2 separate regions of the Homo sapiens genome follow, and region 1 is linked to region 2. The links come from fine-mapping of genetic effects on gene expression. Tissue or cell type: whole blood. Region 2 holds a variant in brackets; the other region holds the start of a gene. All regions are shown on one strand. Distances are between the middles of the regions.

The links. PIP is the estimated chance that this variant, and not a neighbour inherited with it, causes the effect.
Region 1: it holds the start of RELL1, and the variant in region 2 is fine-mapped to the expression of RELL1 in whole blood (TOPMed, PIP above 0.99).

The regions. Positions count from the first base shown.
Region 1 is chr4:37,681,803-37,689,719 of GRCh38, reverse strand. It overlaps RELL1 (RELT like 1), which reads left to right and starts at 3,344. Exons shown (of 7, transcript NM_001085400.2): 1 at 3,344-3,520. The coding sequence starts at 3,433. RefSeq lists silencers at 2,646-2,955, 3,136-3,805 and an enhancer at 6,897-6,946.
Region 2 is chr4:37,587,774-37,595,690 of GRCh38, reverse strand. It overlaps PGCKA1 (PDCD10 and GCKIII kinases associated 1), which reads right to left. Exons shown (of 4, transcript NM_001104629.2): 3 at 6,792-6,845; 4 at 2,181-5,603. The coding sequence starts at 6,823. The coding sequence ends at 4,691. It also overlaps a transcript of RELL1 not described here. Among named protein-coding and RNA genes, the nearest start is that of RELL1, 95 kb to the left of the region's middle. RefSeq lists enhancers at 4,854-5,354, 5,355-5,855. The variant C/T (reference allele first, on the strand shown) is at 4,140.

The DNA.
Region 1 (7,917 bases), 94 kb before region 2:
TGAGGAAAAATATGTAAGCAATTGTTGAAACAGAGTTCAAAAAGGCTAGGTTAAACATGCAATGAAGGAATATGAGAACAATACTTTAGATTGCAAAAGAGGAGCTAGTTGGCTGGAGTTCTGCATTTCAGAGGCAGAATAGTGCAAGAGGAGGTTGCAAGTGTGGGCCCAAGGGAGCTGATCCTGGATTTGCATCCTGGTGGTGCCAGGGAGAGGCCATGTGACTCAGGTAAATGCCCTAATCCCTCAGCTTTGAAGTGAGGAGTGTTAACAATGATTCCCTAAATATAAAATCATTGTGAGGAATTGATGAAAGAATACAAAAAGAGTTCCCACCATAGGATTGGGCTAAATCTAAGGGCAGAATGAGGATTATTGTTTTTAATTAATGACAGTTATTCTTAAGAATTATTAAAACTCTACTTTTGTTTCTGAAAAAATGGAAATACAACTTAGTTTTAAGATTTCCATTTTATGTCCTCAGAAGAAATATGACATTCCCTTCATAATAGAGAATAGAAGTTCCATTACATTGGGGTTCTTACTTTTAAAATAAAACAGTGGATTTTTAGATATACATATGTAGAAGCTATTTAAATTGTATGAATAAATCTGTAGGGTTAAGGATATGGAAAATAATTTAAGCTTGATTTTCTTTCTTTCCTCTCTCCTTCCCTTCTTCACTTTCCTCCGTCCCTCCCCCTCTCTTCCTCCTACCCTTCCTTCATTCCTTTAACAAGACATACAAATGCATGTATACGGGGTACGTGAAAGTAAGACATTTATAGAGAGTGTGTCAAGCAGGTGTTATGGAAAGTTTAGGAAGAGAAATTTCAGAGCCCTGGGTTTCAACCCTGGCTCATAGTAGATATGTCAGGCAGATCACTTAACCATCTCTCATCTGTAAAACAAAGGGCCTGGTAGATAATGGGTAAGGCTTAAGTACTAGATTTTTATATTTGAAGAGCCATAACAGATATACAATTCAAATGTGTTGTTAAAAATGATCCCGTCTTTCTTTTTTTTTTTTCTTTTTTTCTTTTGAGACGGAGTCTCGCTCTGTTGCCCAGGCTGCAGTGCAGTGGCACAATCTCGGCTCACTGCAAGTTCCGCCTCCCGGGTTCACGCCATTCTCCTGCCTCAGCCTCCCGAGTAGCTGGGACTACAGGCGCCCGCCACCACGCCTGGCTACTTTTTTGTATTTTTAGTACAGATGGGGTTTCACCGTGTTAGCCAGGATGGTCTACGATCTCCTGACCTCGTGATCTGCCTGCTTCGGCCTCCCAAAGTGCTGGGATTACAGGCTTGAGCTACTGCGCCCAGCCAAAAACGATCCCATCTTTTTAATACTAAGTCCAATCTGTGGGAAAAGAGTGAAACATGATTCAATTTTGAAATGACATTTTACATTTTGATTAGATTTCTTGATTCAAGCATTTTGTTACATTCTAACTTACAAAACCAGAGCTGGCTTTATAAGTGTGTGACCTGTGCAACTGTGTGTTTAGGAGGGCTCCACAATCGATTTAATGTTGTGTTGTTGCCATCTTGAAATTCTTAACGATTTTTGAACAGAAGGCCCTGCCTTTTCATTTTGCATTGTGCCCTGCAAATTTTATAGCTGGTTCTGGCTACAACTTCTAATTTATAGTTTAATTTCTAGGTCCGGGATTCTCTCCTGTTTTAGTTAGAAATCCACATGGATCGCTTTCCTCCGCACACATTCTCAATGTTTATGTTGATATAAAACTAGCAAAGGCTGCCTGCTAAGACTGCCAGACTGTAGGATGCGCTGCCAACTGAGCGCAGGACGCGCAGTGCCCTCCTTGGGCTTCAAAGGGCAGGGGCTCCATCCTTCAGCCTCAGCCATCTGTACTGTAGTGGCCTGAGCTTCTGTCACTGGCAATTCCCACATCAATGCAATGTTTGTAATAATAGTCCAGCAGACTGCGTGGAGGACTCGGTGAGAGAATAAATAGTCCTCTGAAAACTAGAGGTTATCAGTCACCTCAAGGATGAGACCCATCCTGTGAAAACCCACAGCCTCCATGCACCCCCTCTTCTTGCTGGTGTTGAGTATTTGCTCAAGTCCTGCCCTAATTTCCTTCAAGCAAATGCTTGATGGCCCAGTAACAACAGTCTCTACAGGGCAGTAAAAAGGAACTATTCAGAGAGAGCCTCTGAGTCCTATTAATGCTTGTGAAGATGATTCAACTTCAGAAAACACTTCTGACCTCTTAGCGTGTGCTGTCTGTCCTCCATCCAGGCGCTGAGGGCACAGCAGCGAGCAAACACAATGACAATGAGATAATTACAATTTATCATGGTGGCCCAGACATCGTGGGTTTACTCCCTGGCCTCTAATAGTCACCTCGCAGAGCTGATGTGAGGATGTGAGGAGATAATAAGCGTCTGGGCATTGAAAGACCTACTTTGCGGGAGTATGCGCAAGGTGCAATACAAGCACACGATTAAAAAAAAAAGGCAAGTTGTTCCTGAAAATGCATAGAGGTATTTTCCCCAATAGGAGCAGCTTAAATGCAAACAAACAGAGGAAGAAATTTAAGTTATCTTTTCTGCTAATTTCCAAACAACAGAACGTGACATCCAGCACAGCATCACTCCCTAGATCTGCAACCGAGGGGAATGCTAGTGGATAGACATGCCAACAGCGAAAAAAGCCTGTGCTCACTCCAGTGCTGGCCGCTTCTGACTGTCCAGTGCTTCTCGGGGCGCGCTCCCTCTTTCTCTTCCCACGCCCGCCTAGTCCCAGCGACCGAGGGAGGTTGCACCCGGGCGACCCTCCCCCCGCCCCGGGCTCCCGCGTAATCCCGGCCCGGCTTGGAAAGGAAGCGGGCCTGGCAAGTAGAGGCACGGCCGGGCCACGGTGGGCAGGGCGCAAGGGCGGGGCTATAGCCTAACTGCGCCGCCAAGGCTGCTGCTGGGTTTGGAAAGGAAGCGGGAGAGGAGGGGTCGGGCTGAGCTGTGGGTGGGGAAAAGGGCGGGGCCATGGATGGGCCACGTGCCTTCTTAGGTGGAGTCCGGGGCTCGGTAGGGAGAGGCGGGGCCAAGCTGAGGTGGGTGGAGAAAGAGGGCGTGTCCATGGCCTAGCTACGCCGCTGAGGCTGCTGCGGGGTTTGGAAAGGAAGCGGGAATGGCAGGGAGAGGCGGGATCAGGCTGAGGTGGGCGGGGAGTCGGGGGCGGAGCCATGAGTGGACCTCGTGCCGGCTTAGGTGGAGCCCGGGGCGCGCGGGGAGAGGCGGGACCGAGCCGAGGTGGGTGTGGCGTGGGGCGGGGCAATGGCGGGGCGGGGTTCGCCGCTCCCTGGGGCCCAGCCCAGCCACTCGATCAGCCCGCCGGCTCCGGAGCGGCTCTGCCTTCCCGAGCGCGGGACGCGGCGCCCTGGGGGAGGAGGGCGAAGCGACGCGGCGATGGCTCCGCGGGCACTCCCGGGGTCCGCCGTCCTAGCCGCTGCTGTCTTCGTGGGAGGCGCCGTGAGTTCGCCGCTGGTGGCTCCGGGTGAGTGTCCGGTCGTAGCCGGGGCGCCGGGTGCTGAGCCCGGTCCCGGGAGCGCGGAAGGAAGCGAGGGGTCGGGACGGCAGCCCCGCGGCGTCCTGCTTTCTGGCACAGCCGCGGGATCCCGGCACTGAACAACTGGCTGTCCCGCGGCGGTCCGGGCAGGGCGCGGTGCGTGGCAACGGCTCCCGTCCCTCCCCTCCCGCGGGCCCCGCTCCCGCCTTCCCTCCCTGGGGCCTCCTCCGAGGATCTGTGTTCCCCAGCGCTGGGCAGTGCGGGGCGTAGGGACCAGGCCTTCTTCGGGGGCGCTTCCTCCACGGCCGCTCGCCTCGGAACCCCGCGGACCCGTTTCCCGCCGCCCTTGTCCTCAAAGGCGCCGCGAGCGGAAGATCGTGACACAGAGCACCGGGTGCGCTGTCGGCGCCTCCTTCTCCCTTTTAAATACCTTAAAATATCCTAAAACCTGGAGGACTTTGAATCTCTTTCCACGTTTCCATTTATTTGGGTGGTTGATGGATTCTTGTAACAGGTCAAGGAGTCCACATTTCTTCCCATATATCCTGTATAAATCAGGCTCGGAAAAAGGGAAGGCGCGTTGGTAAACTTACATTTTTTTCTTCTTTTTGTTGATTCCTGTCGTCACGAAAGGAACCTTGTGTGGTCAGGGCAGGAAGCCACCAACAGAGATGCTAAAGTGTCACCAACGATGAAGCAGTTTTTAATTGAAATCAATCTTAAGAGGAGGTGTAAGTTTTATGGAAGTCCTATGTCACATCCTTGCTTTTATAATTACAGACACTAGGGATTCCTTACCACCGCTTCCCCTCTTAATTGCCACCTAACAGCTGCAGTTAAAAAAAAAACATACTTACTTGGCCATTTGGGGTTACTACAGCTGGGAATCTGACGTCAGCAAGCTCTTCCAAGCTTGATTTCAGCGGTGGTTCCTCCTCAGGCCCAAATAATAAGCAACTGGAAGCCTTTCAACAGTGACTGTCTCCTCCATAAACATCCATAAACTCTTCCTCCTGAGAACATTTCAGTCGCTTACAACTTTTACACTGACTTAGCAGTTTGGCCTTCACTTTTTCATAGAAACCAGAGCAGGTTGGAAGGGAAGGAGATGGATAATATTGTCTCCTGAGTCTTTTTAGCAGGCCCGTATTTCCGTTAGCCATCCACCTGGGGAAATGGCAGCTAGTGACATGTTTTACTGGATGGGACAATTTTTTTTTTCTTTTCCTTATTTTGATACAGGGGCTCATTTTGTCACCCAGACTGGAGTGCAGTGGCACAACCTCGGCTCACTGCAACCTCCAGCTCTCTGGTTCAAGTGATTCTCCTGCCTCAGCCTTCTGAGCAGCTGGGATTACAGGCATGTGCCACCATGCCCGGCTAATTTTTGTATTTTTAGTAGAGATGGGGTTTTGCCATATTGGCCAGGCTGGTCTCGAACTCCCGACCTCAAGTGATCCTCCTGCCTCGGCCTCCCAAAGTGCTGGTATTACAGGCATGAGCCACCATGCCCTGCTGGTTCATTTTGATTTTCATCCTGCGTTTGATTGCTGGGACACATAGGTGCATAATCAGGTTCCACTTGGATGTGAGGTTGGAGACATTCATTAGAGGGTTAGAGTCAGTTGCAACAGAATCTGGGGAAGAGTTTAATCTGGGAGTAAAATTATTAAAAATTCAGCACATGATGCATGTAATTAGCCATCATCAGCAGGAGAAATCCATCCCTAGAGTGGGTGTGTGTTTGGTTTGACCTCTGAGCAACACCCAGGTCTCAGGACTAGAATGTGACTGATGAAAGCTCTCATCTAATTGCATGACAGCCTTTTTTTTTTTTTGATGAAAATTAATGCGGAAGAAGAAACAGGTGTCTAAAAAGGAAAGGATACAGAGCACAAATTTGCCAGTATCTTGAGGCGTGTGTAAAGAGAAGATGCTCTGACCAGCCAACATCTGATCCCCTTGCAACCAAAGATGGTGTTAATGTTTGTACCTTGAGCATAGGGAAGTAGAGGGAAAGGAATGGGAAATACTGTTGAGTGCCTGCTGTGTGCCAGGCTTTGGGTTGAGTACTTTGTATGCATTTTTATTTTTATTTATTTTTTTCTTTTTGAGACGGAGTCTTGCTCTGTCGCCCAGGCTGGAGTGCAGTGGCGCGATCTCACTGCAAGCTCCGCCTCCCGGGTTCACGCCATTCTCCTGCCTCAGCCTCCAGAGTAGCTGGGACTACAGGCGCCCGCCACCATGCCTGGCTAATTTTTTATATTTTTAGTAGAGACGGGGTTTCACCGTGTTAGCCAGGATGGTCTCCATCTCCTGACCTCGTGATCCGCCCACCTTGGCCTCCCAAAGTGCTGGGATTACAGGCGTGAGCCACCGCGCCCGGCCGCATTTTTATTTGTTTATTTATTTTTATTTTTATTGTTTTTTGAGACAGAGTCTTGCTCTGACTCCCAGGCTGAGGTGCAGTGGTGCGATCTCAGCTCACTACAACCTCCACCTCCCAGGCTCAAGCAATTCTCCTGCCTCAGCCTCCCTAGTAGCTGGGATTATAGGCGCCCGCCACCATGCCTGGCAAATTTTTGTATTTTTTAGTAGAATCGGGGCTTCCCCATGTTGGCTATGCTGGTTTGTAACTCCTGACCTCAAGTGATCCGCCCTTCTCGACCTCCCAAAGTGCAGGGATTACAGGTGTGAGCCACCGCGCCCAGCCTTCATAGGCATTTTTAAACTCATTGCTCATAACCCTGTGAAATACTTACTTCCAGTAAGGCAACTGAGGCAAGAGAGGTTAAACAACTGGCTGAACATCACATAGGTACTGTGCCAGTCAGCATTCAGAGAAGCAGAACCACTAGGAGGTGTCTGTGTATGTGTGTACCTTTATATGTATCTTTATCTGGGATAACCCAGCCTGCTTGATTCCAAAGTTCATTCCCTTTCCACTGTACCCCACTGCTCTGCAGAGGAAAAATAGAATATGAGTCAACCTCTGCAATCTCGCTGAGATTCTAAGATAGTTTAGAACGTCATAAAATTGTAAGCATGTGGTTATCAGAAGTTGTCAAGTAGAGAAAAGAAGGGCAGATAGCTTCACGGTGGGTAGTGGCAATGCCTTTTTCACTTCCTTCCTAGTAGAAGAATCTCATTAAACTTGTCTCTTAGCAGCAGCATTCGAAACTATATACCACAAGCACCCAAAGGGATGATTTTCCACGTCTTGGCTTATTAATGTCCTTAAGTTCTCTGGTTACTCAACCTTCAGGTTTATTAGTTTCTCTCTCAGACAGTGGGCATAGCCCTCGAGTAAGGAGTGGGTGGAAGAGGTCCTGGGGCTGGTGAGATGAAAAATGCATTGTCCTTGGGCTGCAGGCTTCCCTCCAGCATTCTGACTCCTTTTTAGAAACTAAAGATAAGCTTTATTAAATTCTGGGGTCTCTCTTAGCCAGGTAGCTGCGAAGCTGTACATCCACATAATATATAGTGTTTGGAAAGTTTTGAAAAAGCACACCTTGGAGCTTGGGAGTCCATATCTACATTTAATTTTAAAAGGAAATGAAAAATGTGAGAAGTCTCTGTCAATTCCCTGCCCCTACCCCCTCTAAAAATGGAAATGAAATGAATCTATTTGGAAATTTGAAGAGTTGAATTTGAATGTGAGAGACCAAAGCCCCAAGTGAACAAACAACAGATTTTATTGTTTCTTTAAAAATGATTCTTTGGCCCTAATGTTGAAGTTTAATGACTTATTGAAACAATAGAGAAATGATTTAAAGCTGACAAAAAGAATAAATTAAATTGTCATTGGTATAAACTATTAGGTTGAGTGGTTCCTAATAATTTCGGACACTTAAGTGGTTGTAAAGATTTGGTGTGCTGCTGAAAGCGGGTATATTAATAATTCTGGTGTGATTTATAAAAACTAAAATCAGAATTTGGTGTTAGTACACTGTAGACACTTTACTCTTTTAGGAAAAAGGAATTCAATTTTTATTATTACCTGGTTTGTGTGCAGGCGGTAGTCTAAATACCTAGATCATTTCATTCTTACAATTAATTTCCTGTCAGTTATATACATAATTTTATTCCTGTGTTTGTAGATGAGGAAATTGAGCCTCAGAGAAGTTGAAAAAGTCACTCATGTGTAAGCTGGATTTTGTCATGGAGTCCATTGAGTCAGATCTGTTTGATTTTGAAGTCCATGCTTATTATTACTAAACTATTTTTTTGAGTAAGAAAATTCTTTTTATTCTAACATATTTGTAAAGAATCAGTAAGTAACAAGGTCATGGGATGCTATGGTGGAAAGAGCACCAAGCCTTAAGTCAGGGCCTTGGACTTGAAGTCAAAAATCAGAAGGAAGCCGGGTGCAGTGGCTCACGCCT
Region 2 (7,917 bases):
AGGGTAGTCTGAGAGTGAAGGGCCTGAATAATAAATACAATTCCTAAACTCTCAAATTCCTATGGATTTGTGCTCCCACATCCTTTATTACACCATGTATACCTTTATTACACCATGTCACAATCCAGCACAATCCTGGCTACCTGCATGATATCTCCCCAACCAGACCGGGAAAAGATCACTAACTCCAGACTTCTTTTATGTATTCTTTCAATCAACAAATATGTATTGAGTTCCCCCCTTGTGCCGTACACTAACTTAGATCTCAGGCCAAACGCATTTTTTTAGTACAGATATTTCAGTTGAAAAAAATTGCTAATAGTTGACTCCAAGTGACTAAATGTGCAGGTAAGCATCATCTACGATCAACACATTGACTTGCATAAAATGTTTCTTAAAGTGGCTGGGAGTGCTTCAGAAGTTAGCAGACCACTTAGGTGTGGTTTGTATAACCTGATACATATGAGAAACTTACAAATTTAGTAAATCTATAAATGAATGACTTATTGTTCTATTAGTTAACAGGGAAAGGATTTACCATGAAAAACAGATGTCAGCTTGTCTGTGTTTGTCACCAACTCCAAAATAGAGGATTTAAAAATGCATGAGGTTTAATCTAGAGAAAAAAAATGAAACAAGACCAGAAAGCAATTAATTTCTACGTTTTCGTCATAAAGCCTGGTTGTGTGAAAAGCAGTGCCCTTGATGAAGAGTTAAGTCCAAGTCCAGGAAAGGAGGCTATATCCTGTGCTGCAGTAGTGACTGTGCTCTATCTGCTGCATGGTTGCACACAGACGACCAAACCAGGGAAGTCAGGAGATCTTTGCACTTGCACTTGCATCTGGTGTCTCATTCATTCTTTCTAAGGCCTCCTGCTTGGAGGTACGGATGGGAGAGGTAGGAAGAGAAGAGAATCAGAGAGACAGAGCGGGGCAGAGGGAGGAAAATGACGAATGGCCAGCACTTACTGAGCATGGACAGATGGGCATGTGCTATGTAAGAAACCTAAAATTCTCTTCGTTTTTTTGGGTATCTGGTTTTTCCAGTTATAACTATTCACTACATCTGCTTTGGCAATGAGGGGAAAAAATTTAATTTCATATTTATATGATAGTTCATTTTCCCCCAGTAAAAAGTTAAATCTAACTTCTTAGCTCAAGAAACCTATATGTAATATATACATAAAATAATCTTAATTCAAAATCAGGATTTAACATGGTAAATATCCACGTGATGCAATTGCCTAAGGTTCATGGGGAACTGTGAAGTCTGCCCCTAATCACAGTTAGTGCCTTCCAATCAGAGTGCATTGTGCTTTCATATTGTCCACAATGTTTGAAAAGGTTGGCTATTTTCAACATCACTTTTCTGACAAGAGGTGGCACTAGGCTGCAGAAAGAAGACACTACACACATAAGCGTGCTCAGACAGCTCACTGTTAGACAACCTGGTAGATAAGGCTAAAAGCTGGAATTACTTTTCAACCTAAAGATTTTTTACTTTCATTTCCTTTGGGGGATCCTGGATACTGGAGTAAAGATGAAAGGGGCCAGAATTACTTTTAAAGAACTCTTGAAAGTATTGGCCATCTGTCGACCTTTTCAAAGCAGTTATTCATAAAAGAGAATCTTTAAAACTACAGAGCTGTCAGTTATGGTGAACTCTGCAGCTGTTCTAAGATGTAAAATTATATACATATATAAATGCGAAAGTGTGTGTCTGGGTAAGAGAAAGAGACTTGTCTGCCCTGATACCTTACCCTACCCCTTCTTTGTCTGAATTTCTTCTTTTCGTCCGGTTTGGAGTTATCAATGGGAAGTTGGAGCAGCGGTAGCTGTCCAGTCCTCCTTCCCCCGGACCAAAGGTGGAAGCCCCTTTGGTGTCACACTGAATGTACACACGATCTTCCAATCTTTTGAAACCAGCTGTATCCCAGGCTTTTGGGTTTTGAGACCTCCTGTGGCAGAGACTGTAAACTGACCGCCTCGAAACTCATTGTCCATTTCCCCTTCTTAGTAACTGCATTCTGAGTTTATTTGGCAAAGCCACGCACACCACTAGCAAGACGATTTCCTAGTCTCTCTTGCAGCTAGATGTGGCCAAGTGACCAGATTTTGACCAAAGAGAGTAATGTGGAAGGGATGAATTATACTTCTGTGGGGTCCTTAATAGAGAGTGAGTGGGGTTTTTATTCCTTTATTCTTTTTCCAACATGGAATGCAAATGTAATGACTGAAGCCACAGCAGCCATTATGGACTACAAAGTGATCTTGAGAAGGAAACCAAAATGATTGAAGCAGCATGGGTCATTCATATGCGGGTCATTGATACGTGGGTCATTGATATGTGGGTCATTGATACACGGGCCAGTGATACATTCTCTACCACCCTGGATCACTAACTCCAGACTTCTTTTACATAAGAGGTAAATAAGCCTCTATTTGTATAAAACACTCGTCCCATACAACTGAACATAATCTCAACTGATACACTTAGGAAATCATTGAAGGAATAAGCATTCTGAAATATTAAGTATTTGGTGTACTAAATACAAAAGGAGACATACCTCTAATGCAATTAACAATGCCAAGACTTTATCTTTTTAAGGGCTCTGAGTGACCCTGTATATAGAGGTCACTTGCGATGGCTTGTCATTACAGTACCAAACAAACCCATAGGCTCATTAAGCATTTGTAAGGGTGCCGTCCTTAAAGGTGCTGGAAGGCTCAGAAATCATGTTTTATACTAAATAATTGCCAAAGTCAAATAATGACATTATACATACTTCCCAGTTTTAGAGTTTTCAGTTGTGGGGATGTAAAAATGTTTGTTAAAGGAATTGTTTTCAACTAGTAAAACATCATTTTTGAGTGCCTAGTGTGCCAAGCACTGTGCTAAACACTTACATCATCTCATTTAACCTTTACAAGCACATACAATTATTCTTCTCACTTTACAGATGGGTAAAGGGATACATAACTTGTCCAAGGTCACATGGCAAAGCTGGAAATCAAATGAAGTTCAGTCAGATTTCAATTCTGTGTTACAAAACACCAAACTAAAGCATCTTCCATGTTTATTTTTTTCTAGATAGTTTTGAGCATCCTTAATGCCTTTAAATTCTCCATTGAGTTACGTTAGAATGGTTGTCCTTGTTTCAGTGAATTAGAAGGCTGAAATCCAGAGAGGGCTTGTTCATCTTTGAGGTAAGATCAGGACATTTAGTTATGGCATCAAGTTTGACAGAGAGAAAGCCAAAGCTATGGCTCTGCAAACCAGCTCGGTCCCTTCCTTGAGTATAATTTTGTAGTCTAGCTCTTTTTTTTTTTTTTTTTTTCATAGAGATGGGGTCTCGCTAAATTGCCCAGGTTGGTCTCGAATTCCTGGCCCTGGCAATCCTCTCACCTCAGCCTTCCAAAGTGCTCAGATTACAGACATGAGCCACTGTGCCTAGCTTAGCTCTTTTTTTTTTTTTTTTTTTTGAGATGGAGTCTTGCACTGTCACCCAGGCTGGAGTGCAGTGGCACGATCTCAGCTCACTGCAACCTCCACCTCCCAGGTTCAAGTGATTCTCCTTGCCTCAGCCTCCCAAGTAGCTGGGATTACAGGCGCCCGCCACCGTGCCCGGATAATTTTTTGTATTTTTAGTAGAGACAGGGTTTCACTATGTTGGCCAGGCTGATCTTGAACTCCTGACCTTGTGATCCACCCGCCTCGGCCTCCCAAAGTGCTGGGATTACAGGCATGAGCCACCACGCCCGGCCATCTAGATTAGTTCTTTACATTGAAAGTAACATCCAGGGTCACTGATATTCTGAGAAAATTAGAACCACCTTTGAGTTAAGACTTCTAGAAAGACACATACGTTGTTATATTTTAATTGGAATCAGACATTTAATGGCATAAAAACATTGCATATATGGCTTTGCTGTTCCGAATGTCATGAACTTAAAATCCAAATATGACATAAGCAGTTTTAAGACTTATTTTGGCCAGCCTCCCCAATCCCAAAGGAGATTTAAAAGTAATAATGTAAAAAAGTTAAGGTCAAGGTGTTTTAAAATCAACATCTCAGCTAATGACTAACCCTTTGTTTCCTGGGGACTTCTGCTCTACTGTGAAAACTGCTGAGCTTAACC[C/T]GCTGTTGAACAACTGGTTAGTTATTAGTTCCCTGGGTGATTGTCCCTGAAGTTAAGCCATGCTCTGGGGACACATGAGGCACTTTAATTGGGGTAGTTACTTTTTCCAGGTTGGGTACAATGTTTGGCTCTCAAAAGCAAGGTAAACAGTTTACAGTCAAAAGGAATGCTCTGTGATTGTGTGCCTTTGGGATCAAGGGTTGAGATCTTAGAGTATTCTCATAAACATCTGTACCAGGTGCTCAAAGATGTTTGAGGGTTGTCAAGCAAGCTGTTCAACTTCTGCATTTTCTGTGGATATGGGCACAATGACCCACTCAGATTTTTCTCCTAGTGTCCTGAATGACAGCTCATCTACACAGAGTGAAACTCCAGATATGTGACAAGCAGCATGGGACAGATGCTGACAATCAGAACAGATGCTGGATGTAAACAACTGGTAAGGCTGCACTGGTGCATGCTGGCAGAATCACCTGCTATGCATCCAGGGAGCAAATGCATCTGCATGCTCAGCATGACACCAGCTTACCTCCCTGTGCAAATCCCCTCCCCTAATCAGTCTCATCCAAATCTTCTCCTGCAGTAGCAGCTTCTAAAGCTGCAAGGGCCTCCGCCACCGCTGCATCCTCGTCCACAATCTCCCCATCCCCATCTCCATCGGAGCCATGGGTATCCTCCTGCCTGTTTCCTGAGTCAACCACAGGCATGGCATGAACAGGACCCTTCTCATTAAAGCAGATGCTTAGAACTTCTGTTTCCACATCCTCATTCAATGAATCCCAGCTTCTCCTCACAGAGAAGGGCGTATTCAAACCATGCTCCCCCACTGGGGGCTGAATTCCCTCTAGGGATTCATCCTCAGTATGGTTCTTGAAAACACAGTCCTTTTCATTATGATCAACGTTGTCTCCAGCTGGGCCCCAATGCTGAAGGTAATCTGGGGCTGGTATCTGGAAGACATGGTCTTGTACTTCCAAGGCAAAACTTTCTGCCTCAGAAGGAGCTCTGGAGTCTCCATTTCTCATGACTTGGGTCCCTTCTGAGGCCAGCAGCACACAGTCCTGTTTCCTGGTGCCCCCTCCTTCCAGGAAGGGTTGAGTTGGGGGAACAGTATTTGCAGTACTGGCCCAGGAGCCCCTGTCATCCTGGGTGGGGCTGGAATTCCCAGTGGGCTGTGGAGTGGCAGCAGGGCCGATGCCGTTGACACCGCAGGCATGGTGTTCCCCTCCAGCGTCCCCCTGTGGGAGCGGCCCTTGGTGAGGCCAGCAGGGCTCCCATGGATCAGCTGTCCTGCTGCTGCTCTCAGTCTTCTTTGAGCCCTGCCTCTGAGGGTCATTTTTCTGCACCAAGACTTCACTGCTCCATTTGCCTTTTAATTTATCAGTGTCGTCTTCATCTAGCTTGCAGCTGTTGACTTCATTGACATAGCCAGGAGAGGGCACTTGAACTGGATCAAAGAGATAGCTTCAGGAAAGACAATGAAAACCAGTCAGGTCTGCTCCATCATTAATGCTTTTTACCACAGGCCCTGCTTCTTTCTACGATTCCTGCTAATTTAATTTCTGTGATTACTTTTCAACCTAGATAAGTATGTCTAAATCAAATAGATATAGTTGGTATAAAAATGTTTGGTGGCTCACGCCTGTAATCTCAGCAATTTGGGTGGCCAAGGCGGGTGGATCACTTGAGGTCAGGAGTTCGAGACCAGCCTGACCGACATGGTGAAACCCCATCTTTACTAAAAATACAAAAATTAGCTGGGTGAGGTGGTAGGCACCTGTAATCCCAGCTACTCGGGAGGCTGAGATAGGAGAATCGCTTGAACCTGGGAGGCGGAGGCTGCAGTGAGCTGAGATCACGCCCCTGCACTCCAGCCTGGATGACAGAGCGAGACAGTCTTGAAAAAGATAAACAAGGTTCTGCCTGAAATACTCTTAAGAAGAGAGCCAAAAGGAGGAAGGAGGGGTAAGGGGTGAAGTAAAATACAAAGTGGTTCATAGAATTTTAAAATAAAAAACAAATAAAACAAATGTCCACTAACAGGGCCATAAGGAGTATATCCTCTCAGTGGAATATTATGCAGTCACTAAAATGATAAATATGAAGTCTGTAGTCACAGGAATGATACTTACAATACATAGTTTTTGAATAAAGCCAAACATCACAGTATGATTACAGTGGAATACAGCTTATTTATATATAGGTCTAGAATAGAACTATGATTAAAAAGACAGTATATTTGTTAAGAAAGCAAGATCATCAGTTACCCTTTTTCTTAGTTAGAAGTTTATGTTCACGTTACTCACAATTTTCTGAAATGCAATGTGGACAAAATTAAAAGCACATATGTGATTGGGGTGATTTATTTTCAGCGATGCCATTTCAGGCATCCTCAGAAACCCAGACCAAATTCAGCCTCAGAAAATGATGGTGTTCCCAACATGCTTTGAGAAGTGAGCAAAAAAAGTTAAAAAAATCTAGGGCACATGTTCTTTTAAATGATATTATAACAATTCCAAACTCTTAATGTGTTGGCAATGTTGATCATGCCCCAAGCTGGATAAATGCACTGAATACACGCATGGTCTTTAAAAGTGACCCCACGCTCATCACAAATTCCTCCATTTAGAAGTAGTATTTCTCCAGCTTTACCTTTGTATTATTTTACAGCACCTGCACCCCATCTGGATTGTTTTCTGTTACCACCTGGAAAAGAAAGCGTAAAAGGTAGAGAACACAGTGAGTGATATATTAGTAGGAATTAAGTTTGCCTTTTTTTTTCCCTAGAGACTCAAAATGTATTAAGAGAGTCACACATTTTGGCAAAAGGATAACTACCACGTGGGTCAGAGAGGGTGCTGGTTACCAGGAATACCCCATTTCCATCACCGCTTCAGAGTTCTCAAACGTTCACTGACACTTGCCTCTGTGTCAGACCTTTCTCCCAACCCTGGGGTTATGTGTTTCATCCCCATTTTGCAGATGAGGAGAAGAAGGTGGAAGGATGCTAGACAGAGAAGGGACTTCTGCTTTTCTAATCTGTTACCTTCTACAGAGGACACAGGAACCTCACCAGGGCACGGCCCACTGCACGCAGCAGCAGGAGGGGAAGGAGATTCTGACGGATTCCTTGCCAGGGCATTTGCTCCTCAAGAGTTAAAGGATGCCGGAATAAGCTGGCGGATCCATTGTGTCCCATGATTCAGGCCCTGAGGAGCGTGATAGCCCGAGTCATCGCACAAGCTTCAACCACACTAAATTGATTCTGTGTTGCTTTTCCTACCGCTGGGCCAATCTCAGCTATGATTTGTGGACCTGTTCTTTTGCAGCTCAAAGACATGCCCCCTTGGGCTTCCTGGCAGAAGGTGGACTCATTTCCCACTTGCCCACTGTTCCCTGACCCCTCCCCAAGCTGGGCTTTTCCCCATCATTTCCTTTGGAACAAAATCTTCTCTTCATATAAAACTGACCATGTTGGCCTCTTCCTTCCTCAGAACATCCTAAAAATGAGTATGGAAGCATCTCTTAGATATTATTCATTTCTAATATCTACAGCCTTTATTTTTATTTATTATTTTTTTTTGAGACACAGTCTCACTCTGTCGCCCAGGCTGGAGTGCAGTGGCGCAATCTCGGCTCACTGCAACCTCTGCCTCCCAGGTTCAAGCGATTCTCCTGCCTCAGCCTCCCAAGTAGCTGGGTTTACAGGCGGGTGCCACCATGCCTGGCTAATCTTTGTATTTTTAGTAGAGACAGGGTTTTGCCACGTTGGCCATGC